7 linked regions of the Homo sapiens genome follow. The protein of the gene in region 4 interacts with the protein of the main gene of each other region in a pairwise test. Each region holds a gene or a part of one and is shown on either strand. Other genes may lie near its edges.

The links.
Region 1: the proteins of ODC1 (region 4) and TMOD1 interact in a two-hybrid assay, tested with the Homo sapiens proteins (one large-scale study listed by BioGRID and IntAct).
Region 2: the proteins of ODC1 (region 4) and TSTD2 interact in a two-hybrid assay, tested with the Homo sapiens proteins (one large-scale study listed by BioGRID and IntAct).
Region 3: the proteins of ODC1 (region 4) and TDRD7 interact in a two-hybrid assay, tested with the Homo sapiens proteins (one large-scale study listed by BioGRID and IntAct).
Region 5: the proteins of ODC1 (region 4) and STX17 interact in a two-hybrid assay, tested with the Homo sapiens proteins (one large-scale study listed by BioGRID and IntAct).
Region 6: the proteins of ODC1 (region 4) and BAAT interact in a two-hybrid assay, tested with the Homo sapiens proteins (one large-scale study listed by BioGRID and IntAct).
Region 7: the proteins of ODC1 (region 4) and HEMGN interact in a two-hybrid assay, tested with the Homo sapiens proteins (one large-scale study listed by BioGRID and IntAct).

The regions. Positions count from the first base shown.
Region 1 is NC_000009.12:97,500,148-97,504,823, reverse strand, and holds the start of TMOD1 (tropomodulin-1), read right to left. Parts: upstream 3,159-4,676; 5' UTR 3,021-3,158; intron 1-3,020. UniProt on the Homo sapiens protein: Blocks the elongation and depolymerization of the actin filaments at the pointed end. The Tmod/TM complex contributes to the formation of the short actin protofilament, which in turn defines the geometry of the membrane skeleton.
Region 2 is NC_000009.12:97,623,219-97,627,158, forward strand, and holds part of TSTD2 (thiosulfate sulfurtransferase/rhodanese-like domain-containing protein 2), read right to left. Parts: intron 2,780-3,940; coding exon 2,463-2,779; intron 1-2,462.
Region 3 is NC_000009.12:97,418,409-97,422,348, reverse strand, and holds part of TDRD7 (tudor domain-containing protein 7), read right to left. Parts: intron 1-3,940. UniProt on the Homo sapiens protein: Component of specific cytoplasmic RNA granules involved in post-transcriptional regulation of specific genes: probably acts by binding to specific mRNAs and regulating their translation.
Region 4 is NC_000002.12:10,445,447-10,449,915, forward strand, and holds the start of ODC1 (ornithine decarboxylase), read right to left. Parts: upstream 2,882-4,469; 5' UTR 2,675-2,881; intron 2,567-2,674; exon of another isoform or gene 2,028-2,566; intron 1,404-2,027; exon of another isoform or gene 1,268-1,403; intron 1-1,267. UniProt on the Homo sapiens protein: Catalyzes the first and rate-limiting step of polyamine biosynthesis that converts ornithine into putrescine, which is the precursor for the polyamines, spermidine and spermine.
Region 5 is NC_000009.12:99,909,337-99,913,276, reverse strand, and holds part of STX17 (syntaxin-17), read right to left. Parts: intron 1,122-3,940; exon of another isoform or gene 1-1,121. UniProt on the Homo sapiens protein: SNAREs, soluble N-ethylmaleimide-sensitive factor-attachment protein receptors, are essential proteins for fusion of cellular membranes.
Region 6 is NC_000009.12:101,371,507-101,375,446, forward strand, and holds part of BAAT (bile acid-CoA:amino acid N-acyltransferase), read right to left. Parts: intron 1-3,940. UniProt on the Homo sapiens protein: Catalyzes the amidation of bile acids (BAs) with the amino acids taurine and glycine. More than 95% of the BAs are N-acyl amidates with glycine and taurine.
Region 7 is NC_000009.12:97,927,884-97,931,823, reverse strand, and holds part of HEMGN (hemogen), read left to right. Parts: intron 1-602; coding exon 603-1,789; intron 1,790-3,940. UniProt on the Homo sapiens protein: Regulates the proliferation and differentiation of hematopoietic cells. Overexpression block the TPA-induced megakaryocytic differentiation in the K562 cell model. May also prevent cell apoptosis through the activation of the nuclear factor-kappa B (NF-kB).

The sequences.
Region 1 (4,676 bases), on a different chromosome or scaffold from region 4:
AAGTCAAAACATTGACTGGAAAAGGCCATTACGACCGGGCTCAGCAGGAGTCATCGATAGATGATGTCATTTCAGAAATAAATAAGCCAAGGTTATGAGGCCCCAGAGCAGGGTCAAAACACTCTTCACAGCCCATCACCATCCTCCATCGCAGATACTGGTCTGCCAGAGACATAGGGGTCTGAGCCAGGATCTGCTTCGTTTTACCTTTTTTTGCTCATTCCAGGGGATGAAGGCCACCTGCAGAGTCTGTGACATTCTGCAAGTCACTAAGGAAGGTCCCCAATCCTCATTATGGGCACACCTTTTAGATTCCCCTTTAACTCTCTCCCCTCTCCTGGGTTCTTCTCACTACTTGCCATACTCTTTATCCTAGAATGCCTGCCTCCCTTCTGTTCCTTGTCCTCAGTTCCTGCTACCTTCCCTCTCCCTTCCTTTCTCATCCAAGCTTTTAGAAAGAGTTGCTGGCTCTGTTGAGAGCCTTCTTCAGCCTACAGCCTGAAGAAGTGGAGAACTTCTTCAGCTCCTGTTAGCTCCTGCCTTTCCCCCTCACCACAACGAATACTATCATTGCAATATCAGGCTCTGGGCTGAGGGCTTGCCCTGAATCATCTCACTTAATTCTCACAAGCAGCCCCTATGAAATGGGGCTATTGTTGTCTCCATTGTATGAGGAGAAAACGAGGCTCAGACAGGCTGGGTCACTGGCAGATCTCATTTTTTGAGCCTGCTGCAATACCCTGGTCTAAGTCACTCATGATCCCTGCCAATCCTGATGGTCTTTTCCCAGTCCTCATCCCCCTACTCCTGTCTCTCCACAGCAAGTGACACTGCCCACCTCTGTCCTCCCTTGGCACCTGGGAAAGCCACTGTCTCTCACTCCTTCCCCAGCTCCTCCTTACAGGATGGGTCATGCTAGAAAGGCTTCCAAGGAAGACTCTAAGCCCTCTCCACTCCAGGTCCACTAGAGACCACCTTGTCTGCCCCCTCATTGCTCAAGGTTCCTCTGAGTGGGTGGCAGAGTTGGGGCTGGAGCCAGATATCCTAACCTCCAGGCCAGTCCACCTCCCATTGCTCAGAGCTGCCACACCTACTTTGTGTTTTCTGTTTTTGCTGAGCTGCAAGAAAACGCCCTACCCTGAAGGAGGGAGAAGGTGTGAGACCCTGATAAGGTGGGGCGGAGGCTATTTTTAGAGGACACTGGCTTTCATCTTAGGCTGGGAGAAACTCAAGGGTCAATGACTCTCTAAAACACGGGTTTGTAAGACTAGCTCATTAAAGATAATACACCAAAGTGACAGTATTCTTGTTTTCACTCTGCCTGTTGGTTGTGTGGCTCTAACTGATGGAAACTTTATTATCTGACTCCATTTCCCGTTAATTCTTTTTTCTGTAAGTCTTTGAGATGGCTTTAGAAAAAAACACATAACAGAAAGTAAAGTAGAAGCAAAAAGGAAACTTCAGGATGAGGGCGCTATTGTCCAGACAAGGTAAAGTCCAGAACAGCAGCAGATTCAAGAAGAGGGGGCATTGATCGGGTGCTCCCAGAGCTCCCGGACCTGCCTGAGCAGTGGGAAGGGTGCGGAAAGAGATGGGAAAGGCTGGGAGACTGCAGAACTTCTGGCGTGACCGGCCCTGTGTGACCTTGAGCAGGGGGCTCTGCGGCCCTGCACAGAGGACAAAATGGCAGTCACCTCTGGAAGAAAGATGGGGTGGGGGCCCTAGGGGTTCTCACGCTGAGGGCCCAGCACCTGGGTTCAGGGTCTGGTTCTGCGATTCAGACACGGAGGAGCTTGGGCCAGGTCGTCTCCGAGAGTCTGAGGGCATAGGGCGAGGGCTGGAGACAGGGTCTGTAATAGTAGCGGTGGGTGAAGGGTGTAGGAGGGGGCGGCGCTGCGCAGGTTGGAGGACGCATCATAGGCCCGATATAGACCGGGAAACTGTGGCCAGGGAGCGGCTGTACTGGAACCACTGCCCCTGCCCAGCTCATCGCATCTGAAGCTGCGTGGCTCACAGGCTGCTTTGCCGGCTACGGAGCAGAGAGATGCCCATAGGCACCCCAAAAGTGCACTTCCTAGGGTTGTACGGCTTAGGATATCCGACGGCCTTAGTGAGTCCCAGGATACGATCGAGTCTGGGGCAGTCAGTCTCCGATTTCTGCAGCGTCTCCGCATGTGCGCGGCTGGGACCCCAGCGTCCCAGGCCCGGAGAGGGTGAACAGGTGTGGGGAGCGCAGGCGGCCAAGAGCGCGCCCTGCAGCTCTCAGGGCTTGGGCTCCCAGCTCCATCGCGGCTACCAAACCTCGCCCCTACAAATGGGAGACTGAGATCCAGAAACAAGAGGGGGATTGCCAAGGCCATGCCGAGAGCCGGCGACAACCTGGGGCTCCCGCCTCCAAGCTCTTTCCAGCTCCACTTGGCCGCGTAGCGCGTGTCGTGGTGCTTTAAACCTTGTCTCTCCCAGTTTGGGAAACTTCACCTGCCCCAAACACTCTCAGCGCGAACCTGGGATCCACGTCCAGTCGAGCCTTTACTCCCCCACTCCCACCCCCAGACTCTTGCAGGCGGAGAAGAGGCCGCGCCCCCGAGCCCAGCTCCGGCTGGCACCTGTACCCAGCTGAGCACCCCGCGGGCTCAGAGCCCCGCCGCGCTGGAGTCCTGCGGGTGGCGGGGGCGCCCCTCCGCCAGGACCCCAGCCCGGGGCGCCGTCTCCTCCAGAACCCCGGGTCCTTCTCGCGTTCACAGACGCGGTGCGGAGGTCCAGAGCGGAGGGCGCCCTGGCCAGGGCTGCGCGCGCGGGGAGGCGGGGACGGGAGCGCTGGGCTCGGAACCCCGAGACCCGGGCTCCCTAGCCCCAGAGGCAACCCGAGGCGGCAGCTATTTATAGAGGGAGCCACGCTCAGTCCCTCTTGGCGGCGGCGGCGACAGCTGAATATTTTGCCCAGATATGGCTGAGGCCCCGGAGCGGGGGCAGGGAGCCCCGCGAGCGCGAGGGGGACCCCAGGCGGGGTGGGGGCTTACCCGGACGCAGAGCTGTGGGGCCGGCGCGGACGCGGGCTGCGGAACAGGCGCGGGCGGCGGGCAGATGGACGCGGGCGGAGGCCGCGGTGCTCCGGCGGGCAGCGGGCGGGCGAGCGCAGCGCGGGGCTGGACGAGCTCCCGGGCGGCCGCGGGCGGGCGGGAGCTGTGGGCTCGGGGGTGGGAGCCAGGGGCGGGCCCGGCTCGGCTGTCACCGCGCCCCGCCCCGCCCGCCGCCGGCTCCCTCCTTCCCCCCCCCTCCACTCGGGGGCGCCCGGGCGCAGCGCACTTCCCCGTCGGGACGCGGCCCTGGGCCGGGAGCGCAGGGGAGTCGGGCTGCAGCCGAGCGAGCGCGGGCCCCTGCCTGGGTCTCCTCCGCTTCCCCGCTGGTACCAGGAAGAGTTTGAGCGACGGTAGAGTTATGTGGGAAAAGGTGGGCAGATTTGCATTCCTGTGGGGTTTAGAATTTAAGATTTTGAGAATCTGAAGTCCCCAGAAGTGATGGACCAAAGCCAGCTAAGCAGCTGCTGCACCTTCACCTCTGATTGAAGCGCCGCTCCGTCCGTTTCCCAGCAGCGCGGCCAGGTGGGCTCTGAGCCGCAAGCTTTAACCGCGATCGTTTTGTCTACACGTAGTTCCAACACGCAATCGAATACATTCTCTCTACACTGAGAGCGAGTGGAGTGTCTAAAATACTGATTTTAAATGACCACAACAAAAAGACCCAAGTTCTTAAAAGGCTTTTTTTTTTTTTTTTTTTTTTCAGAACAAACCACTTTAGGTGGTTTATTCCAAATACAATTTTAAGTGTTTTAATAAACAAATGTCTCATGCAAAGGAATTTATATAGAAATAGGAAAACGTCTTATTTTGGATTATTATGGGAAAGCTTTTGGTAGGGTAGACCTTAATAAAATCAGCTCTTAATCCTGATGTATAGATTATTAATGAGAAACACTCATTAACCAAATTTTGTTTCTCAAGAAAATGAATTTCTCTAAAGTCCTCACAATGAGAACGCTCTTTTCAAGGGGTATATGCCATACATTTAAAAATAAGCAGTGATCTAATATTTCAGATTATTTTAAAACATTTTTGTTGTGAATCGAACATATAAGAACATACAACATAAGTTATGTTGTATGTGTAAACAAAATAAATGTGCAGCTTCATGACTTTTTACAACGTGAACACCTGTGCAACCAGTCACTCAGAGAACATTGCCTACAGCCCAGAAGCCAACCTGTCCCTCCTGGGTCCCAACTCCCTTCTAAAGATGATCACTTTCTTGACCCTTACGGTGATCATGTCCTTGTTTTTTTTCTTCCCTCTGTAGTATGTCTTCATTTGTTCAAATCTGTTGTTAATCTGTGGTTTTATGCAGCTGTAGTTTTTCACTGTATGAATATGCCACAGTTTAAAAAAAAATCCATTTGACTATTAATGGGCATTTAGGTTGTTTCCAGGTTTTAGCTATTACAAATAGTGCTGCTGCGAACATTCCTTGCCAGAATCCTCCTGTCCACGCGCACAGCCTGCTGTTGGAAGTGCTGGGTGATAGAGAAAGCCTAACCTCAACTTCGGCAGAGATAAGCCTGAACTCTTCCAAAGTTATAGTACCATTGTACAGTGCAGTTTCCCATCTTCAACAACACTTGA
Region 2 (3,940 bases), on a different chromosome or scaffold from region 4:
GTTTTAAAAACAGGAGTTTCCCTGCACAAGCTCTCTCTCTTTGCCTGCTGCCATCTACGTAAGATGTGACTTGCTCCTCCTTGCCTTCCACCATGATCATCAGGTCTCCCCTGCCATGCGGAACTGTTAAGTCCATTAAACCTCTTTCTTTTGTAAATTGCCCAGTCTTGGATATGTCTTTATCAGCATGAAAACAGACTAATACAAAACCCTTTTTTAAGCTCTGACATTACATAGGGTAGAGGAATCATTAATGTCTCTGTGTCTTCCCACTTGTTTTTGAAAATAATATAATTTTCTTTCTTTACCTCTCCTCCCTAAAGAATATGTAGAATGGTCTCCAAGAAACCTTGCAAACAGGCTGGATGCAGTGGCTCACACCTGTAATCCCAGCACTTGGGAGGCCAAGGTGAGCAGATCACCTGAGGTCAGGAGCTCAAGACTAGTCTGGCCAACATGGTGAAACCCTGTCTCTACTAAAAATACAAATTAGCTGGGTATGGTGGTGCATGCCTGTAATCCCAGCTACTCGGGAGGCTGAGGCAGGAGAATCACTTGAACCTGGGAAGCAGAGGTTGAAGTGAGCCAAGATCACACCACTGCACTCTAGCCTGGGTGACAGAGTGAGACTCTGTCTCAAAAAAAAAAAGAAAAAACCTCACAAACAATGTCAACTGACTGGGTATATGCTGCTGCACAGGCTATGGTCTTTGGCTATATATAGTATGCATGTTATTGGCCTAACTTAGGCCTCTAGAATTCTGTGCCTTAAGGATCTAGCTGTTGCAAGTAGTTAAGATCCTGAAAGAATAGGTAAAGTGCAGGCAGTGCTGCTAGGTAATACACACTAAAAAGTAACAACTCTGAGGTATGGTGCCCAGCCTCCAAGATGATCCCTGATGATCCTGCCTCCTGGTATTTAGACCCTTGCATAGTTCTCTCCTAGACTGTACTGAGGTTAGTCTACGTGACCAATAGCATCAATAAAAAGTGATGGTATGGCAATCTGAGATTAGGTCATAAAAGATTGTGGTTTCTGTCTTGAAGTGTCTCTGTCTCTCACATATCACATGCCATGTCATGAGAGCACTCAGGCAGCCTATGAAGAGACCCCCACAGAGAGGAATGGAGGCCTTTGACTAAAAGCCACTGAAAAAACAAGCCTGCCACCAACCACATGAGTGAACCTGGAAACAGATTTACTGGCCCCAGTCAAGCAATGAGATGACTGCAAGTTCATGAGAGACTCTGAGCTAGTAACACCAACTATGCTGCTGTAAGCTGAATTTGGTACATAGCAATAATACAGAGAGTTTGGATCTAGAATTAGAAGAGAGGGAGGAGAGGTAACAGAAGAGTAAGTCTGAGCCGTCTTAGTAAAAAGACAAACTTTTATACCTTGGCATCCTACTTAAGTTCATCCTGATGGCATTAAAGCACTCACAAAAAGTTCAATCACATTCACTATACTCTGTTTAATTATGCAATTAAAGAAGAGTCTAATGCAGTTTGAAAGACTCCAGAAAAAAAAAAAGGTTAAATCAAAGAAAGTTTAGATGCTTTAAAATGTAAGCTACATTTACCTGCTTTCTTAAAAATTCCCTATGTGCAATGCTACATTCCCCAATAAACCTAGTAAATGATGCATTTTTCTGGATACGTATATTTGAAATCATACAGATAATGATATCTAGCTTAAAAGAAACCCCCCCTTTTTTTTGCTTAGTTTTTCCTGCCCTATTTATTTAAAAATGTTTAAAGCATGGCACAGTTTACAAGTGAAATACACAGATCTTAAGTGTAAAGTTTGATCATTTTTGACACAAGTATACCTGTGTAATCCACACCACTATCAAAACCAGAACATTTCCAATACCTCAAAAAATCTCTTGTGTATTCCCAAACTTTCTGCCAGAACCTTTCTATCATCATATATTAGTTTTGCCTTCAAGTACATGAAATCAGAAAATATGTATTGTCTGGCTATTTTCACTCAGCATAAGGATTTTCTCATTCACCCATATACGTTCTTGAATATTAGCAGTTCATAGCACTTTATTGTCGTGCAATATTCTTACATGACTATACCAGTTTATTCATTCTCCTGTTGATGGATATTTGCAGTTGTTTCCAGTTTTTTGTTATTATGAATAAAACTGCTATGAGCATTCTTGTACAAGGCTTTCTGTGGATATGTTTTTATTGCTGTTGGTATTATACCCAGGAGTGGGCCACAGGAACGATGCATGTTTAAGAAATTGCCGAACACTTTTCCAAAGTGGTTGTGCCATATTACATTCCCACCAACAGTGACTGGGTGTTCCAGTTGTTCCACATCCTCATTTCACATTTGACACAGTTGGTCTTTCTCACTTTAGCCATTTTAATGGGTGAATTGTAGTATCTCATTGTGGTTGGAAAAATACTTTAAATCAAACCAAAATACAGAATGAAAATCTTACCTTATCAGCTCATCAGGGTTAAAGCAGCTTATATCAGGGAGCCAAGCAGACACGTCATGGCTATGTGGAAGGCACTCTTTTAAAGGGTTCTTTTCATCTGCAGACGAAAGACTCTTTGAGGTGCTCAATGTCACAGCCAGTTGCTTTAAAATAGAAGCTGTCTGGTGATAAATTTCATCAGCATGTTGTGTTGCCACATGTCTATGGATGCTGGTTTGGTCTGTGAATAGCTGCCGACAGCATTTCCACAATTTTTCTTTACATTCAAAACTCCTTTTTGTTGGAACTTCTTTGGTTTTGACAAAAAGGGCAAAGGCCTGCAATTAGATTTCAAATGCTAACACTGTTAAATAACCTTAGGTTTATGGCTAATAGAAGTCTCACTAAGATTCTTTAGATTATCTTTCCACAGGGGCTTCTAGTTTTATGTTCCATTATGTTATACAATTCTCTGAGAAGTAACACTTCTCTTATTAGTAAGCTTTAGAAGAGACTATTAGAGAAATTAAAACTAGGCTTTATATTGAGGAGGTTAAATAACTCTCAGCATCATAATTTTATTCTCAGGATATAAGACTAAGTCACACTGGAAAATACATAATACAGTTTGGCCTAAAATATCACAAATAACACTATTAGTTATTTTCGAAAGGAATATGGAAAGTAAATTATGAAGTATGCTTACCATGGAATATTAAGCAGCCAGTTTTAAGTTATATGGAAAAATATTTTATGATATAATATTAAGTGAAAAAAATTGGATAAAATTGCTTATGCAATGTAATCTTAACCACATTAAAAAGTACATTGAAAAAGACCAGGAAGAAACGTACCAAAATATCTTCCTTCTTGGAAAATAATATTACTGTTTTTATAAAAATTACTTATGCTTATTGTAAAACAATCAAACAGAAAATTCTCTTAACCAGTTACCAACTGATGAACATTTAGATTGTTTCTAATATTTGCAATTAAAAGCCATGTTGAATGAGCATTCCATGCATCTATCTTTCTATATCTTTAACCACCTACTTAGAATATCTAAAATAAAAATTGAGGGGTCAAAGAACATGAAATTTTAATCTGTAATAGTGACTTCCAGGAAAAATGTACCAATTTATACTCTAACCAGAAAAGCATGTGGGTGCCATTTTATCCATAGCCTCACTGAGTTCTATCAGTATTTTTTATCATCAATATTTTTAATGTTGGTCCAAATAAAAGGCAAAAGAAATGCTACCCTATTTTTTTTTTTAATATTTTTGATTAGTAGTAATGCTGAATACTTTTTCCTGCTTAATCTATTTGTTTATTTCTGGCTTGCCTGTTCAAATCTGTTGCCTATTTTTCCATTATAGCATTTATCTTCTTACTGATACGTGTTTTTAGTGATCTTTTGTTGATCATAATTACCAACTTTTTTCTTCACTTGTCATTTGGTTTTCAACTTTGTTTATGGTCTTTTTTGACCTGGGGGG
Region 3 (3,940 bases), on a different chromosome or scaffold from region 4:
TCTTGGCTCACTGTAACCTCTGCCTCCTGGGTTCAGGTGATTCTTGTGCCTCAGCCTCCCAAGTTGGCTGGGATTACAGGCATGTGCCACCATGCCTGGCTAATTTTTTTGTATTTTTAGTAGAGACAGGGTTTTGCCATGTTGGCTAGGCTGGTCTCAAACTCCTGACCTCAAGTGATCCACCCACTTCAGCCTCCCAAAGTGCTGGGATTACAGGTGTGAGCCACCTCCGGCCTAGTAAACTGATTTTTAACAAAGATGCTAAGGAAATTCAATGAAGAAAGTTCAATGAACAGTGCTAGTAAAACTGGTCATTCATATGCAAATAATGAACTTCATATTATATATACAAAAAATTAACTCAAAATAAATAATTTAGGTCCTAAATGAAAAGGCTAATAGTATAAAACTTCTAAAAAATACACAGGAGTAAATCTTTGTGGCCTTGGGTTAGGCAAAGACTTTTGAGAACCATAGAAGAAAAAATTGGCTGGGCACGGTGGTTCACGTCTGTAATTTCAGCACTTTGGGAGACCAAGGCACATGGGTCACCTGAGCTCAGGAGTTCGAGACTCGCCTGGGCAACATAGTGAGACTCCGTCTTCACACACACACACACACACACACACACACACACACACACACACACAAAAGCTGGGCATAGTCGCACGTGCCTGTAGTCCCAGCTACCTGAGAGGCTGCAGTGAGCCGTCATGGTGCGACAGAGTGAGAACCTGTCTCAAAAAGAAAAAAAGAAGAAATTGACAAATTGGATCTCATCAAAATTTAAAATGTCTGCTCTTCCAAAAGCTGTTCAAAAATGAAAAGCCACAGATTGTGAGAAGATATTTTCATAACAGACGTGGTAAAGTTGGTAGTCATATATAAACAATACTCAAAACTCAATAATAAAACAAAGATCCCAATTTAAAATGTGCAAAACACCTGAATACATATGTCACTAAAGTAAAAATGAAGATGGCAAAAAAACACATGAAAAGATGCTCAACAGCATTAGTCATTAGGGAAATGCAAATTAAATTCACAATGAAGTATCACTACACATCTATTAGAGCAGCTTAATTTTTTAAAAAACTGACAATACGAAGTGCTGATGAGAAAGCAGAGCATTTAGAACTCTCATACATTTCTGGTGGGCATGCAAAATAGTACCTTGAAAAATAGTTTGACAATTTCTTTTTTTTTTTTTTTTTGAGACAGAGTCCAGCTCTGTGGCCCAGGCTGGAGTGCAGTAGCCCGATCTCGGCTCACTGCAACCTCTGCCACCCAGGTTCAAGCAATTCTCCTGTCTCAGCCTCCCGAGTTGCTGGGACTACAGGCACACACCACCTCGCCCAGCTAATTTTTTTGTATTTTTGGTAGATATGGGGTTTCACCATATTGGTCAGGCTGGCCTTGAACTCCTGACCTCAGGTGATCCACCCGCCCTGGCCTTCCAAAATGCTGGGATTACAGACATAAGCCACTGCCCCGGCCAGTTTGACAATTTCTTACAAAGTAAAGTATACACTTATATAACCCAGCAGTCCTCTCCTACATTATTGCCCAAGAGAAATGATGACATATGTCCACACAGAAACGTGTGTGTGTATATAACAGCATTATTTATAATTGCCCCCCAAACTGGAAACAATCAAAATGTCTATCAAAAGGTAAGTAGATAAACCAAACTAGTAGCGCCATACAGTGGAATACTATTCAGTAATAGAAAGGAACAATCTGTTGATACATAAAACATGCATGACTCTTATATTATGCTAAAGGAAAAAGCTGGACACAAAAGGCTACATACATGATTCTATTTATGTGAACATTCTGGAAAAGGCGAAACTACAGACACAGAAATTAGATCAGTGGTTGCCAAGGGCTGGGGGTAAGGGGAGGTGATTGGCTATAAAGAGGGATTTTTACTGCATGTACAGCATATCTTTAACCACCACACCCTCCCCCACCCGCCCCCCCCAAAAAAAAGTTCTTTTAAGCTATGCTTCTCTGTGGTCAGCCCTCTCTGGTTCATACACACACTGCCCTGGCTCCTGGCAACTACCAATCTGCTTTCTGTCACTATGGATTATTTTTGCCTAGTGCTTTGTGTTCCATCTATGTTACTGCATTTAACTCAGTTCATTCCTTTTTATTGATGAGTAGTATTCCACTGTATGGGTATACTACAATTTGTTTATCAATTCAAATGTTGATACACATTTGGGTTGCATCCAATTTTGAGATATTATAAATAAAGTTGCCTTGATCATTCATGTACAAGTATTTAGGTAGGCACATGTTTTTATTTCTCTTATGTAAATTCTGAGAAATGGCTTTTCTAAAAATCTAGTATCTATAATAATGCTGGGAGGCTATTATCCTCAACTTATAGATGTGAAAACCAAGGTTCAGATAAGTTAAATACTTAAGATATCGCGGGATGTAGATAAGCTAGGATTTCAATCCAGGTCTGTTTGATGCCAAAGGCCACACTTTTCCCATTATATCACCCTGTCTACTGGTACTGGGAAAAACACCCAGCAAACCCTGAAGAATTAAGAACAGGAGACAAGACAGGAAAGAAAGGGTAAGCAGAGTAAAAAAGAAAAAAACAGTGGTGTGAAATCCACAGCTGACTCCACTTAGTCACAGGGCTGGTGTGGATTCCAAGACAATGGAACAGCTGGAGATACTCAATAGAAATTCATGGCAGAGACAGAGAACTGCAGAGTCTGCACACCTCCACTACCTCTGAAGTCCACACTCTGAATGAATGCCAGGGAGCAGGAAAGAGGACAGCTTTGGGACCTATACTTCACGGTTGCCAGATGTCAATGCTGAAGTATGAATTTTGGGTCCTGAATAGTAAACTGATGACACGGAAAATAGTTTAACAATGGTTCATGACTCATGAGTCAAAGATCACTGAACTACTATACAGTTATTTCCACAAGTAGTAAAAGCAACAGTGGAGACTGGCCAAGTTTTAATTTGCAAGAGGACATACTAAAGCATCACTTGCTTACTCCTCAGTGCCAATCCACCCTGACTATCCATTTCTGATCTCCACCTTCCCCATCTATGTGCTCTTCTTCCCTTCAAAACCCAATCCCTCCCATCAGTTCATCTAGAGCTCTTCTGAGTGAAACTGGGCTTTGCATCTTTGTATATCCGTATGCCTAAGTGGGCCTTGGCTATCAGCTACATACGCATTACATATAGATATAATGTCAGGTGGTTAGCACACATCCAGGGAAAATATCCATCTGGGTGTGACCAGTGTAAACGACTCAAATTAGACTGTTCAATATATCTGACTCCTCCCTGGCCAGACTACTTTATATTCCCCTGCCAGAGTTTCAGTAAGAAGGCCTTACCCTTTGCCTTAAGAATAGAGTTTCCATGGTATTCTCCTTCCCTTCATTTTGGAAAGAGCATCTGCTCCACTGCCACCTCCCCTCTGTGGTCTACTTTTCTCAGCTACATTAGGAGTGGACAGCAACCATTAATTTATGGGGAAAAAATGTCGGATAAATGCATTTTACTAATGGGTGTCCTGTTACTAAAACCTAACAGAACACTGTGATTCAGGTTTGAAAGGACAGGTCCAGCCCTGTCTTAGAGTCTAATCAGAGGCTTGTTCTACAGGTTGCCCTCTGCGAAAGCCTTCCACTCCTTCCACCCTTGGGAGAACCATTTTAGACCACTGCCCCTGAAATGTCCCTTCTATCTTCCTTATTTCTGCTCTGAAACAGCTGCAAGCAGGGATCTCCCAAAAAGGGCACTTCACAATTTTTTTTTTTAAGGAGCGGCATTCAGGTAGAGTCTTCCTCTTGTCCCCACCCATGACCTGTTTAACGGCCAGAGCAGAGTGAGGTACGAAGCTTTGCCTAATGCTTGCTTCTCTAGTCCCACCCTCTTTAAATGTGTCTTC
Region 4 (4,469 bases):
ACAACAAAAAATACCAGGTTTTTCCAAGGCAGCACACTAAGCATTTCAAATATTTGTACCAAAAAAATCTAGCATGCAAGTTTCAGAAGCTTATCTGCACTTAGCTCACTGATATGGAAAAAAGTCTTATAATGGTCTGATTTATTTCAGAGCAGTTTCAGTTCCTTAGAAACTTAAAATAGCATTATAGACTTTTTTATTTTTTTTGAGACAGAGTCTCACGCTGTCACCCAGGCTGGAGTGCAGCGGTGCAATCTTGGCTCACTGCAACCTCTGCCTCCCGGGTTCAAGCGATTCTCCTGCCTCAGCCTCCCCAGCAGCTGGGATTACAGGCGCCTGCCACCATGCCCGGCTAATTTTTGTGTTTTTAGTAGAGACAGGATTTCACCACGTTGTCCAGGTGGGTCTCAAACTCCTGACCCCAGGTGATCCACCCGCCTCGGTCTTCCAAAGTGCTGGGATTACATTATAGCCTTTATACACAGCCATACAAACATTTCCTACTTCCACTAAGTCTTAGAATGATTTTTACTGACCAACAGGCATCATGGAAATGTCTGGAGCATTTGAGATTTTACGAGTTAATTTTCATGTATTAGCTGGGTATATACTTCTTAAAAACTGTAATCTTCAAGTCAACTTATCACATTGTATTACAGTTGCTGTTACCTGATCAGAATTCAGTATTTTTTTTTTTTTTTTTTGAGACAGAGTTTTACTCTTGTTGCCCAGGCTGGAGTGCAATGGCATGATCTCGGCTCACCTCAACCTCCGCCTCCTGGGTTCAAGCGATTCTCCTGCCTCAGTCTCCCGAGTAGCTGGGATTACCGGCATGTGCCACCACACCCGGGGCCTGGCTAATTTTATATTTTTAGTGGAGATGGCGTTTCTCCATGTTAGTCAGGCTGGTCTCCAACTCCCGACCTCAGGTGATCCGCCTGCCTCAGCCTCCCAAAGTGTTGGGATTACAGGCGTGAGCCACCACGCCCGGCTAGAACTCAGTATTCTTAAACCAGCGTTGCCTACCAAGTTTAGCAATTCCGGGAATGCCAACTGTCCTTACAGTCACTCTCGTATTTGCTTAGCTATGAGAATAATTTGGGGCTAACTTCACCAAAAAAGAAAAACAAGCAAGAACATCACTCTAGTAACAATAAAAGCCACTGTATTTTGCTTTCATCAAATGTGGCACCTTGTGAACCAGCTTTCTTAAAATTATTTATTTTAACCTTTAAAAATTTCTGCCAGGTAGAGCTTTCTTCTTTTCCACTGTGCAACCCACTTCAGTGCCAGCAGCCTACGGGCACAGAGGCCAGGCAATGGTTCGGGGACACAGTTTGCTCTGGCATGGGGTACTATGACAGGCCCAGGGTGACGGGCCTGTCATAAATCCAAACCCATGCATAGAATTTGCTTTAAAGCTCTATCTATTGTGACTGCTTGGCATTGTCAACCTCCGAAGTTGCCTAAATCACCCCTCGGAGAAGGGAAGAGAGTAACAACGCTAGCAAAACCATTTTTGTTACAGACATGGTTATATATTTTTGTTTATATGAAGAATATTTACAATTTAATAATAAATAGGCTCATGCAGTCTCGGACTGGGTCATTTGAGGCCTTATTAAATATTTTTAAGGCAATGTTCAGGCCTAAACTTGGAAAGTTTTGATTTCTTTTTAATACGCCAATACTTTTTTGCTTTTCTGTATCTTTTAAGGCGTTACTTAAGTAACTTACTTGAATATATTTTACTGAAGAACACCTTTCGGTCTTTCTGTAACAGCTAAGTTATTTAAAATGGTCAATCAATTAGCACAAGAGGATAATGTTAGAAGAGATAGGGGCTAATTCAAACAAACTTTGAAAAAAATTTCACAAATCAATTAAAGTCTGCCCAATTTTATGTTTAAACAAAGTCAGCCAACACATTCTTTGTCCTCCCCAGACATTCCTGAGAGGTTCTGCCTTCTACACTTTCACCAATTATTTCGACTTCGCAAACAGCACAATCAGCCTTTTCTGCAAACCTTAGGGCTGTCTCCCCTGTGTATGTCCGTTCATCTAAGCCAAGCTTTTCCGAAATCACCGAGTCATTCACAGTCCTTAAATAAACACCTCTAAGTCATGGCCGAGCATCTAATATCACAGCTACTACAGCAAGACTATCTTAGCTCTACCCACTCTCGCGGGTTTCCAAATTGGTGTCATCTGCTCTGTAGACACAGCGAAAATAAAAACTGGAAGGAAACTGAAGGCGCCAAGGCCGGGGCCCGCTCGTCTGTACCAAGGCGAGCCCGGGCTCTGCGCCCCTGCACCTGCTGCGCGGCCGCCAGGGCCTCCCCAACGGCTCCCCGGCCAGCGCGCGGCCGCCGAAGGGTTGGGAAAGAGGCCGGCGCGGGGCCGCAGGGTCTCCGGGTGGGTCTCCCCTAGGCCCCTCCAGCCCCGAGCTGTGAAGACGGGGGCAGAACGAGGCGCCCGGATCACCCTTATCCAGCCGCGGGAGAACCCCGGGCCGGGAGGAAGCGGCGCCTCAAGGTCGTGGCCCGCTCGGCGACCACGTGTCTCCGCAGGCCGGCGAGGCGCGCCGCACACGTGCCCGGGGCCCGGGGCCCGCAGCCCGCCCCGGCTCCCGCCCTCGCTCCCTCCCTTCCTCCGCGGCCGGGGAGTCCCTCACCTCAGAGCGCCCAGGCGCCGCAGGCCAGCCCCATGGGGAAGCGCAGACGCCGGAGCCTGAGTCGCAGCCGCAGGAGCGCTCGGCCGCCCCCGCCGCGCCCGTCAGCGCCTGGCTCCCGCCCGCCGGAGACGCCGGCCCGAGGTGGCGCCGGAGCTGCTGGCAGAGGGGCGGCGGGCGGCGGCGGCGGCGGCTACAGGAGGGACTGACAAAGCCCCACGGCACGCCGCTCCCTACTTATAGCACCGGCGGGTCGCCATGGAGACGCACCAGCTCAAACCAGCCACGATCGGTTCCGGCCGGGACACCGCCGGGGGAGGGGCGGGGGCCCGGCGGTGGCCAACCCGGGCCCGCGCGGAGCTGGTGGGGCGCCGGCGGGCCGACGTCAGCCGAGCCGAGCACCGCCTGCCCCACGCGTGGCCCCCGCCCCCGGCTTCGCGCCCCGCCCTCCCCGCCCTGCGGCCGCCTCTCCCCGCCCTCCCCGCCCTGCGGCCGCCTCGCCCCGCCCCGCCCTGCGGCGGTCTCGCCCGCCTGGAACTGGTCCGCGCACGCGCACGACGCCGCAGGCCCCGGCCCCGGCCCGCGGCAGCTGAACGGCAGAGCCTGTAGCTGCACAGCTGTGCTTCCACCTGGCGTTCAGTACCTCGTGCCCGAGAGCGGAAAAGGGAAATCGCGAGCGGAGGACCGATGTGCTGGCCACGTGGGCCCCGCCGGGCCGACTCCGGACCCTGCTGCCGCCCATTCCTCCGGTGCAAGGGACCTGGAAGTGATCCCGGTGCCGCTCTGCTCCCACCAGCTAGGGAGCAGAGGCGCGGGAGGGAAGGGGCGTCCCGGGGGTCGCCAGCACGCTGCGGGCAGGGCTGGCAGCCGCCTCCACGCCCCCGCGCTGGAAGCCTCGTCTTTGTAACATCGAGGTATCCTGTAACTAGATGGGTCCTGGCCTGCGGAGGTAGTTTCCCCTGTGAAGCCAGGGACTCAGCCAGGAGCGTGAGGGGACCCGGATCCTGAGTCTCCAAGCCGCCCACTACCCTCTGCTTTACCGGATGGAACTCATCAGTAACTAGGTATCTTTAAGGGCGGCTCCCTGGCGCGCTCTGAGAGTTACGGAAGTCCCAAAATGCTTTGACCGAAAACGTCTAAACAGTGAATACATAAAGCAAAAAGCCGCGTGGGAAATTCGAGTCCCTAGGAGCGCCCAGGGGACGCCTCTGGAGGTGGACTGCCACTCACTCCAGGCCACGCTGGAATGCCCGCACCAGGGAGGCACTGCACTTGAATTGGGGACACTTTTTTTTTTTTTTTTCATTTTTACCTTTCATTCCCTTTTGGACAATCCAGACAGGATATGTCTCTCCCTAGGGTGGGGATTTCGACTCCTTAGGGTGGGAGTACAGCCGATGAAGAGTTAAGGAGAGGAGTGGGTAGATCTAGATCTAGCCTTGGGTGGGTGGGGGCGGGGTTGGAGGAGCTCAGAGCACTGGCCCAGCGCTGCCCCCAACTTGCTGTGTGCTCTTGGACAAGTTATCTCCCTTCTCTGGGCTTCAGATAACCCAAGGATCCTTACATATCTTTATAGCTACAAAGCCCTGTGAGGTTTTGAAAAACTTCCTTGGTACCCAAAACCAGGTCTGAGGCACAGTCAGTGAATACCTGTTTAATGAATGCATGCATAAATGAATGAATGGATGATCCAGCTCTTCCTGGAGCAGGCACGACTTCCACAGAAACAGAGCAAACGCTAGCCGTAAGCAGAAGTGAGTCTTCTTCCTATGTGAAGGGATGTGGGGGTGGTACGCCC
Region 5 (3,940 bases), on a different chromosome or scaffold from region 4:
CAGTAAGAAGGAATTATTCAAAGAGAATATACTGATAATTAAAATGTAAGACCTCAAACTGAAAAAGCACATCAGCCTCAAGTAGCATACATTAAAAAGAAACCAAATTTGCCTAAATACATGGAAGGGAAATTGCAAAACATTAAAGAACAAGAATCATTAAAAAAATGAGACATAAAAGACTGACAAAGCAATAATATATTGCTTTTAAAAGCAAGATATTAAAAGACAGAAATACCTTCAAAGTGCTGAGAGAGTTGGTATATTCCCAGGTAAATTATCATTTAAAATGAAAGCAAAATAATCATTTTCAGACATACAAGGACTAAGAGAGTTTATTACCAAGCCCCTCATTAAAAGTACTTAAAGGAATATTTCAACAATAAAGAAAATAAACCCAAAGGAGTGGAATAGCAAGGAGCAATGAATAGAATAAACTGTTAACGGATAGAATAAATGGGTGGATGAAAGAACAAAGAAAATAAAACATTTATTTTGAATAGTGTGATGAAGTATAATAAAAATGTTTCCATGTAAATAATTTTCTATAATTACGTAGATGCTTCACAATTTTACAAATTGGCTATTATTGGCTATTTAGGTTGTTTCTAATTTTCCACTATTATAAACTACAGTGTAATTACCCTGCTTACACATAAATCCATACTGCTGCCTATAATTATTTCTTTAAAACAATCAACAAAGACACAACCTGTATAAAGGGAGAAAATATTTGCCAACTAGTCATCCAACAAGGGACTAATATCTAGAATGTATGAGAAACTCAAACAACTCAACAGCAAAGAAACAAATAGTTCCATTAAAAAGTGGGCAAAGAATCTGAATAGACATTTCTCAAAAGAAGACATACAAATGACCAAAAGGTATTTTTTTTAATGCTCAACATCATTAATCATCAGGGAAATGCAAATAAAAACCACAATGAGATACCATCTCACCCCAGTTACAATAGCTATCACCAAACGGATAAAAAATAACAAATGCTGGTGAGGATGTAGCAAAAGAGGCCTCTTTTTTTTTTTTTCTTTTTAGATAGATTTTCGCTCTTGTCACCCAGGCTGGAGTGCAGTGGCACGAGCTCAGCTTACTGCAACCTCTGCCTCCCGGGTTCAAGCAGTTCTCCTGCCTCAGCCTCCTGAGTAGCTGGGATTACAGGCACATGCCACCACGCCCAGCTAATTTTTTGTTTTTAGTAGAGACGGGATTTTGCCATGTTGGCCAAGCTGGTCTCGAACTCCTGACCTCAGGTGATCCACCTGCCTCGGCCTCCCAAAGTGCCGGGATTACAGGCGTGAGCCACGACGCCTGGCGAGAAAGAGGACTCTTATACACTGTTGGTGGGAATGTAAATTAGTACAGCCATTATGAAAAACAGTATGGGCTGGGTACGCTGGCTCATAGCTGTAATTCCAGCACTTTGGAAGGCTGAAGCAGGAGGATCACTTGAGGCCAAGAGTTTGAGGGCAGCCTGGGCAACATAGCAAGATCCTTCTTCTCTGAAAAATTTAAAAATTAGCTGGGTGTGGTGGTGGGTGCCTGTAGTCCCAGTGACACCAAGGTGGGAAGATCCCTTGAGCCCTAAAGTGTGAGCCTGCAAGAAACAGTGTTCTTACTACTACACTACAGCCTAGGCAACACAGTGAGATCCTGTCTCAAAAAAAGAAAGAAAAACTGTACAGAGGCTTCTCAAAAAATTAAAAATAAAACTACCATATGATCCAGCAATCCCACTACTGGGTATTTATCCAAAGGAAAAAAAATCAGTATATCAAAGAGATACCTACAGCCCCATGTTTATTGCAGCAGCATTCACAATAGCCAAGATATGGAATCAACCTAAGTGTCTGTCAATGGATGACTGGATAAAGAAAATGTGGTGTATATACACAATGAAATACCGTTCAGCCATTAAAAAAAAGAATGGGTCAGGCGCGATGGCTCATGCCTATAATCCCAGCACTTTGGGAGGTGGAGGCGGGCCGATCAGGTCAGGAGATCGAGACCATCCTGGCTAACATGGTGAAACCCCGTCTCTACTAAAAAATACAAAAAATTAGCCAGGCGTGGTGGCATGCACCTGTATTCCCAGCTGCTCCGGAGGCTGAGGCAGGAGAATCGCTTGAACCCAGGAGGCGGAGGTTGCGGTGAACCCAGATCTCACCACTGCACTCCAGCTTGGGCAACAGAGCGAGACTCCGTCTAGGGAGAAAAAAAAAAAAAAGAATGAAATCCTGTCATTTACAACAACATGGATGGAACATCTAGCCTGTACTCCCAGCTACTCAGGAAGCCGAGGTAGGAGGATCACTTGAGCCCAGAAATTAGAAGCCAGCCTGGGCAATATAATGAGACCTCCATTTCTAAATAAAAAGGGGGAAAAAAGTTGATCTCCTGGAGGTAGAGAGTAGAGTGATGGGAAGGGGCAGGAGGGGTGAAGAGAAGTTGATTAATGGGTACAAACATACAGTTAGATAGAAGGAATACATTATTCATGTTTAATAACACAGTGAGGTAGCTATAGTTAACAATAATTTATTGCATATTTCAAAATAGCTAGAAGATCTGAAGTGCTCCTAACACAAAGAAATAATAAATGTTTGACATGATATATATCCCAAATACCCTGATTTGATCATTACACATTGTATGTATGTATCAAAACATCACATGTATCCTATAAATATGTAAAATTATTGTGTATTAATTGAAAAAAGTAACATAAAAATAAAAAATAAATATCTAGAAATAGAATTATTAGGTAGACAGATTTTTCAAGGTTTTTAAAACATATATATAGCCATATCCCACAAAAGGTTATGCCTATTATGTTCCTACCAGAAACATAACACAATGTCCATTTATCCATATTCCAAGCAATATACTTAGTATTATCATTCTTAGACATGTCATTGGTGAAAAAAATGATGTCTCATTATTGCTTTACTTTGCATTCCTTAAATTACTAACAGGGTGGATTTATCAGCCATTTGCATTTCTTTTTTTTTTTTCTTTTTTTTTGTTTTGAGACGGAGTCTCACTCTTTTGCCCAGGCTGGAGTGAAGTGGTGCGATCTCAGCTCACTGCAACCTCCGCCCCTTAGGTTCAAGTGACTCTCCTGCCTCAGCCTCCCAAGTAGCTGGGATTACAGGCACGTGCCACCACGCCCAGCTAATTTTTGTATTTTTAGTAGAGACGGGGTTTCACCATGTTGGCCAGGCTGGTCTCGAACTCCCGACCTCAGGTGATCCACCTGCCTCGGCCTCCCAAAGTGCTAGGATTACAAGTGTGAGGCACCATGCCCAGCTGCATTTCTTCTTTTTTTAATTTTTAATTTTTGTGGGTATATATTAGTAGTAGGTATATATTTATGGGATATTTGAGTTATTTTGATACAGGCATACAATGTGTAATAATCACATTAGGGTAAATGAGGTATCCATCACCTCAAGCATTTATTCTTTGTGTTGCAAACAATCCAGTTATACTCTTTTAGTTATTTTTAAATATACAATTGAATTATTATAGTCACCCTGTTCGGCTATCAAGTACTATATTTTATTCATCCTCTATCACTATTTTTTTGTACTCATTGCATTTCTTCTTTCATGAATTGCCTGTTCATGTCATATGCATCTGTTTTTACTACAGGGGATGTCTTTCTCTTATTAACTCATAAAAGGCTATTACATGTTAAATGTATCAATTATTTGTCTAACATTAACATTTCCCAATCTATCACACTGCCTCTTTTCTTTTCTTCTATACCACAAAGAGATTATCTTTATATCTACCATCATTCCTATCAAAATGTTTTTTGAACACACCTGTTGTTCAATAGATGCTGCCTGAACTAAAATATTTCTTCACACGTCCCTTCTATACAATTGCTAATCCTATCACTCTAGTCAAATAGCACAAT
Region 6 (3,940 bases), on a different chromosome or scaffold from region 4:
AAGGGTTGATGAAAGGTGAATTGAATCAGCAGTCAGACCACTTAGGAGTCAGTTCTAACCCTCTAGTTCTTTAGAAACTTCCTGATATAGTCTTCTAGTACAAGACACCTGAGAGCTTTCAATGAATTTCCAGAAGACAGTAAGCAAGCTGACAAATTTTATAACAATAATGAACCACTGTTAAAGAAGCAGCAGCCAAAATATGCATGAATGGTATCAATACATCTAGGAAGATAACACAATCTGTTATACAGAACCTTTAAAAGAAATCAGGTACAATGGAGGATAAAAATAAGATGTGGGTTTGAAAATATGGTTATTTATTGAACGTTTATATATATATGAGACATTTGACTTCACGCTAATCCCTTCCTCAAGTCCTGGAAACAGAATGCCTTGCATCCAAGAGTTTACCTGCAACAGAACATAAAAAAATAGAGGGATCATGGAATAGGAATACTATACAGCCATGAAAAAATGAAACCATGTCCTTTGCAGCAACATGGATGCAGCTAAAGGCCATTTCCCTAAGTGAACTAATGAAGAAACAGATAACCAAATACCTCATGTTCTCAATTATAAGTGGGAGCTAAACATTGGGTACACACGGACATTGGGAACAGAAGACACTGGGGACTGCAAGAGGACAGAGAGAGGGATGGGGGCAAGGGCTGAAAAACTACCTATTGGGTACTTAATATCAGGGTGACAGGTTCACCTCAGCATCATCACACAATATACCTATGTAACAATCCTGCACATATACCCCCGATCCTAAAATGAAAGTTAAAAAAAAAAAAAACCCAGAAGGATCTTCTCAAAAGAATGAGAATAAAATCTTTGGAAAGAACAAAAGGGGTGGTGTGTGTATTGCTCTTTAGAGAAAAAACATCCATAGCTTTGTACTTAGGATTTACCCAAAGGAAAGCAAAACTAGAAGCTGACAGGCCATTCAGGTACATAAAAGTCTTGCTGAGCTTTTTGTAACCTTTTAAAAATTAAGAAATGCCCATCTCCTTTTGATTAGTGTGAAGAAAGCCACAAGAGTTACCACTGTTCTCTCTCTAACAAACACAACTATCTGCATAAACTACAAAATTAGTTTTGGGGTTGTTGGTTTTTTTTTTTTTTTTGGTCTTTATTTTTGTTTTGTTTGTAACTCATTAGATTACTGAGAATGCAAAGAATCTACATGAATTGAACTCCAGCAAGTGACAAGCTGCTCCATAGGAAACAGAAAGTTTTCTCTCCTACATGCTGATTTACAATTATGATAAAGCAGCAAAAAATAAACCCAACAGAAAAAAATAAGGAGAAATCAACAGAAAATTTAATGTACTTTTAATGGATATGTGTGGATTGGTTTGATAAACTAGAATTCCAAGAAACTGTAGCCACAGAGTAAGTCTTTCTCTATCTGCCAACTTTCCGTAGAGCTTCACCATGTGCTCAGACCGAGATCAGGGGTGCAAGCTGAAAGAAATCTGAGGCATTGCACACCTTCATGTAAAATAAGGCAGCTGCCTTTCAATGAATGGGGTCAGAGGAGCAGAGTAGAGAGAGAATAGGGAATAGGAAATGAAAACACCCTTATATCATATTTCACAAACTGTTCTAAAGACAGCAAATTCTTGCTCAGCTGCTTTTCCTTGCTGTAAAATAAGCTACCAGTAATTCTAAACCAATCTAGAATGCATTGTTTCTGGACCAAATATAAGCATGCATACTTACAAAAATGCTTGGCAATGAGTACTTGGCCTATTTGTCCCCATAGCCATAAAAAATAATGTGATCATGTCTTTTGCAGGAACAGGGATGAGTATCAAATAGCTGAGGAAAGACTAGAATTTATTTTTAAATTCTGTGACTGACTTCCAAAAATCCCTTATCACTAGAAGTACTGGCAAAATATCAGATATTAAAGGATCAGATTTAATTCTTTGATATAAGCATGAAATTTTTACTGATAGCTTTCAGGGCTAGCATAAACCATTAAGTAACCCAAGAAGCATGAGAGACAAGAATGAAGTCTAGTATAAAATGCAAGGCAGGCTGAACGATAACGATGTTTTGTTTTATAGGAAAAGTCAACACTAATAATATACTCCAGAGAAACTATCACCTACTTGGATGTTTTTAACATTATAGCAAACTAAAACGTCAAGCTTCAAAATGACTAAACCTGTAACTTATAGCTGGAACATTTTGCTGAATTTGTCATTATACTATAATTTATAGTGTTCAACATCTGAGGACTCAGCACTATCTTGGCAAACAGACTAACTCCTCCCACCCATCAAAGGTCTCGGGGGTAGGGGCGAAGCCCTTTTCTCCCCATCAATACTGAGCTTTATACCATACAAGAAATCAGTGAAAGGTAAACAACAAGGTACAATGTAATTCTATTATATATTTTGCTTCTGTTATTTGTGACATATACAAGTATATTTTTGGTTTTGGAGCTATAAATTAATTTAGCAAGCTTCAAAGCTCATAAATTTTAACTTTTCAAATGAGAAGTAACTTTTCAAATAAAGTTTAGGACTTTACGCCTATTAATTTTACTATCAAAATGTCTGAAGGACTCCATTTAAATAATTATAATTCTTCTAAATATCATTTGAAGAATTATTTGTGGACACTAGACTCAAGACTACACTAAATCCAAACAGTACACATGACCTAAGTTTTGAAGTTTCTCATCTCAGTTACCTGTCTTTCAACTTGCTACTTGCTCTCATGCTTTCATTCACTAAATACAAACTGTCAGATTCTTAAACTGGACCCTCTCCTCCAAGGCCCTATCAGATTAACTTTGTAAATATGCATCTTCAGTCTTTAAGCACCAACATTTTAAGCTGAGACTAATGCCTAGAGCCACATTTCTAAGTTCAGCACTAAAAATTCATAATTCTGGGGTATTAGCCTAAAATGTACCTGAAAAGTGAACCAAGTTTCAGATATTTTCATAAATCTTGAAACTCCAAACTAGAATTCCAATATTTTTAAAAATATCTCTCATGAAGACAAGGCAACTGTATTTACTGCATCAACACTATTAAAGGATAACTGATAGCAACAAAGGGACCTACCCATATTTCAGAAGGCCAAGATTTGTCATGATAAAATCTAAAAAAATGGGCAAAGGCAATGAGATCCTAAATACCACTATCATAAAAATAATCAGTTTCTATATTTCTATCTTCCTTCTGCTATAAGAGGAACCAAAGAAGTCAAATAGATAATTGTTCTGTCTGAGCCAACAATGAAATCTTTAAGAACAGGTATATTCCCTGTTATTGTCTCAGGGCATTATATCATACCTGCTTTATTTAAAAAAAAAAACCTTCAGAAATAAAAATGAGTTAGCCTTGTGAATGTTTTGAAGCATAGTTTCTTGAATTTCTGTGATGAACTCTTCAAGCAATTCAATTTTTCAGCGTCATCACTCAAAATTCCCTTTGATATGGGATCTATCCCATGATTACTGATATGGTTTGGCTGTGTTCCCAACCAAATCTTAACCTTGAATTGTAATAATCCCCACATGTTAAGGGCAGGGCCAGGTGGAAATAAATGAATCACGGGAGTTGTTCCCCCCCATACTGTTCTCATGGTAGTGAATAAGTCTCACAAGAACTGATGGTTTTATACATGGGAGTTCCCTGCACAAGCTCTTTTGCCTGACACCATGTAAGACATGACTTTGCTTCTCCTTTGTCTTCTGCTATGATTGTGAGGCCTCTCCAGCCATGTGAAACTTTGAGTCCATTAAACCTCTTTCCTTTATAAATTACCTACTCTCAGGTATGTCTTTATTAGCAGTGTGTGAACAGACTAATACAGTTACAAAGCAGCTTCCTCCTTTGTTGTTTGTCAGAGTGGCTCTTTGTTCCTTCAGGATCCTAAACTTCTCATTCAAAGTCATCTCTGTCTGTTT
Region 7 (3,940 bases), on a different chromosome or scaffold from region 4:
CTTCAAGAAGTGCTTTTGCAGCTTTTGACCCCTTACAGTATACCTCATTTGATATATACTGTAGCAACTTAGAATTCTTTACACAAAATAATGTATTTGATAATCAAGCCATATACAGCATCCACCTGCAGGCTGCACAGACGAGGAGCTGTGCCAGGTCTAGAAACTCGATTTGTATGAGTTTACTCAGGGGTAGGGAAGTAACACACAAAGACTAAATGCAAAGAGACTAGTGTATAAACCAGAATGCCACTCTATTAATTTGTAATGAGAATTATTTATTTTCCATAACAAAACTTTAAGAATATGCTATAACACACGCACGCACGCATACGCGCATGCACTACCCTCACCAAGAAGGCTCCTGGTAAGCATGGTATCAATGCCACGAAGTCCTGGAGAAACATTCCCTCTCCTAAGAATTGAGAACATCTAGAGCTGCTCCTTCATTTTACAAACAAGGAGATTGAGGCCCAGAGAGATTAAGTGACTAGTTCATGATACTTGTGCAATGAGGCAGTGGGGGACCTGGCACTGTTATTACAAGCATTTATTTGAATTCTGTAGTACCACTGCTGACACTAATTCTGTTCTTTCTGCAGAGAACAGAAAAAACGCAAGCAGCAGAGAACAGGAAAAGGAAATCGAAGAGGCAGAAAGAGACAACAAAACACAGAATTGAAGGTGGAGCCTCAGCCACAGATAGAAAAGGAAATAGTGGAGAAAGCACTGGCACCTATAGAGAAAAAAACTGAGCCACCTGGGAGCATAACCAAAGTATTTCCTTCAGTAGCCTCCCCGCAAAAAGTTGTGCCTGAGGAACACTTTTCTGAAATATGTCAAGAAAGTAACATATATCAGGAGAATTTTTCTGAGTACCAAGAAATAGCAGTACAAAACCATTCTTCTGAAACATGCCAACATGTGTCTGAACCTGAAGACCTCTCTCCTAAAATGTACCAAGAAATATCTGTACTTCAAGACAATTCTTCCAAAATATGCCAAGACATGAAGGAACCTGAAGACAACTCTCCTAACACATGCCAAGTAATATCTGTAATTCAAGACCATCCTTTCAAAATGTACCAAGATATGGCTAAACGAGAAGATCTGGCTCCTAAAATGTGCCAAGAAGCTGCTGTACCCAAAATCCTTCCTTGTCCAACATCTGAAGACACAGCTGATCTGGCAGGATGCTCTCTTCAAGCATATCCAAAACCAGATGTGCCTAAAGGCTATATTCTTGACACAGACCAAAATCCAGCAGAACCAGAGGAATACAATGAAACAGATCAAGGAATAGCTGAGACAGAAGGCCTTTTTCCTAAAATACAAGAAATAGCTGAGCCTAAAGACCTTTCTACAAAAACACACCAAGAATCAGCTGAACCTAAATACCTTCCTCATAAAACATGTAACGAAATTATTGTGCCTAAAGCCCCCTCTCATAAAACAATCCAAGAAACACCTCATTCTGAAGACTATTCAATTGAAATAAACCAAGAAACTCCTGGGTCTGAAAAATATTCACCTGAAACGTATCAAGAAATACCTGGGCTTGAAGAATATTCACCTGAAATATACCAAGAAACATCCCAGCTTGAAGAATATTCACCTGAAATATACCAAGAAACACCGGGGCCTGAAGACCTCTCTACTGAGACATATAAAAATAAGGATGTGCCTAAAGAATGCTTTCCAGAACCACACCAAGAAACAGGTGGGCCCCAAGGCCAGGATCCTAAAGCACACCAGGAAGATGCTAAAGATGCTTATACTTTTCCTCAAGGTAAGGGCTGTTTATAGCACCAAGGTAGGTACATCTCCCCCAGAGTAGTGATTTACAACTTTCTCTGACAATCCTGGGTATTCCCTGTTATTTCAATGGATACTGTGAATTTCATTGACTAGTTTTAAGTGAACAATATTTTCATGCAACCAACGTCTGTCTTGGCATATTTCAAAGAGTTAAAAAAATTGAAAATGCAAGCATGTACATTAAGTACTTATTCATACTATCCATCCATTATGAGATGCTATAGTCAGTGAAATGAACCCAATATAGGATGAATTATTGCAAAATATTTTTAAAAATTAAGTCTACATTAACAAGAAAGCTTGATGAATGAAGTTTTTCTAGGAAATTTAATTTGCCTGATAAATGGAAAGCAGGTAAATTCATAGTACGAAGTACTGAGGGAGATAAAAGCTGTAAAATATAATCCTGTTACTAGGGAATTCATTCTTGTAGGATTTATCAGGTTTACCAAAAACCCTTTCTATTTCAAGATTTGTTCCTGAAAAACTTTTTCCTAAGTATAGGAATTTGAAAATAATGCAACCTTTCTTTAATTTCACTTGCCTCAGAGACATAACTGAGAACTTCAGCTCTCTTTGTACAATACTGTAGACAGTATAAGAAATGGACTGAGTCTATCAGACCATAGTTATCCCCAGGAAACTGATTTCTAAAGAAATCCCTTTAGTAGTTTACTTGCTCTTTATCCTAAAAGATGAGTGCAACAAAAACATGGTGCTAGTTGGTTTCCAAGTAATACCAGTTTTGAAGAACTACTTTAAAGAAATACATTGCAGCAAAAGCAGGCATGTGAAGCAGTACGTGCACTGACAGGAGTACCCTGCTGGAGAAGCAGCTCTAACCAACACAGCGTCCTGATTCCTAACTGCTTCATTCTAAACCCAGCAAGGTCGATATGGTCAATTAATTAACGCTTATTTTATTTTTGGCTTTGTTTGACCAAATAAATGGGAATATCTATTTTTCCTGATTATAAAAGTAGTAAGTGTTCATTATAATAAAGCAATATGTAAGTGAATATCAAGTAAAGTAAAAGTCCCCTATAATACCATCTTCTATCTTCAGTTCCCAATGTTAAGGTTGTTTTGTTTCAACAAATGAGACAGTACCCATCCTATCCTGTAACTTGTTTTTGTTTTCATTTACAATATGTATTGCAGCCATCTTTATGATGTCTTTTGTAACAACTGCATAGTACTGTGCTATATGTATATTCAACCAGTCTCTATAAGGATGAACACTTAGGTTACTGCCAAGTTTTACTATTACAACAATGTTCAATGAACATCATTGGGAATAACATTTATTTAGTTAACATTTATCTGGTACTTTTCTATGTGCCAGACACCATATTAAATATTTTATGTGGTTTATTTTATTCAATGTTAAAAGCTCTACTGGATAAATAATACTCCCATTCTAAATATAAGGAAATGGAGGCACTGGAGGCTGAAGTTTGTCTGATTATTTCCTTTGAATCAACCCCTAGAAATCAAATTGTTGGGCCAAACGGTACCCAAATTTAAAGTTTGAATATACAGTCAGTCAGACTAGCCTCCAGAAATGTGGTAGCAATTCACACGAGACAGGTGCCTTTTCCCCACACCCTTGTCAGCACTGTACATTATGACATTTTAAAAATCCTTGTCTGTCTGCTAGGTTAAAAAATACACTTGATCGGCCGGGCGCGGTGGCTCACGCCTGTAATCCCAGCACGTTGGGAGGCCGAGGTGGGCGGATCACGAGGTCAGGAGATCGAGACCATTCTGGCTAACACGATGAAACCCCGTCTCTACTAAAATTACAAAAAATTAGCCGGGCGCGGTGGCGGGCGCCTGTAGTCCCAGCTACTCGGGAGGCTGAAGCAGGAGAATGGCGTGAACCCGGGAGGCGGAGCTTGCAGTGAGCAGAGATCGCGCCACTGCACTCCAGCCTGGGCGACAGAGCGAGACTCCGGCTCAAAAAAAAAAAAAAAAAAATACACTTGATCTTAGCCAAAAGGCTGAGAAGTGATAGGTTAAAAAATAAAACACACCTAATGGTCTTAATCACCCCCTTTTATAATTAATGTTACTAGACATCTTTTCAGGATTATTATAAATATAATTTTTTAAGAATTGC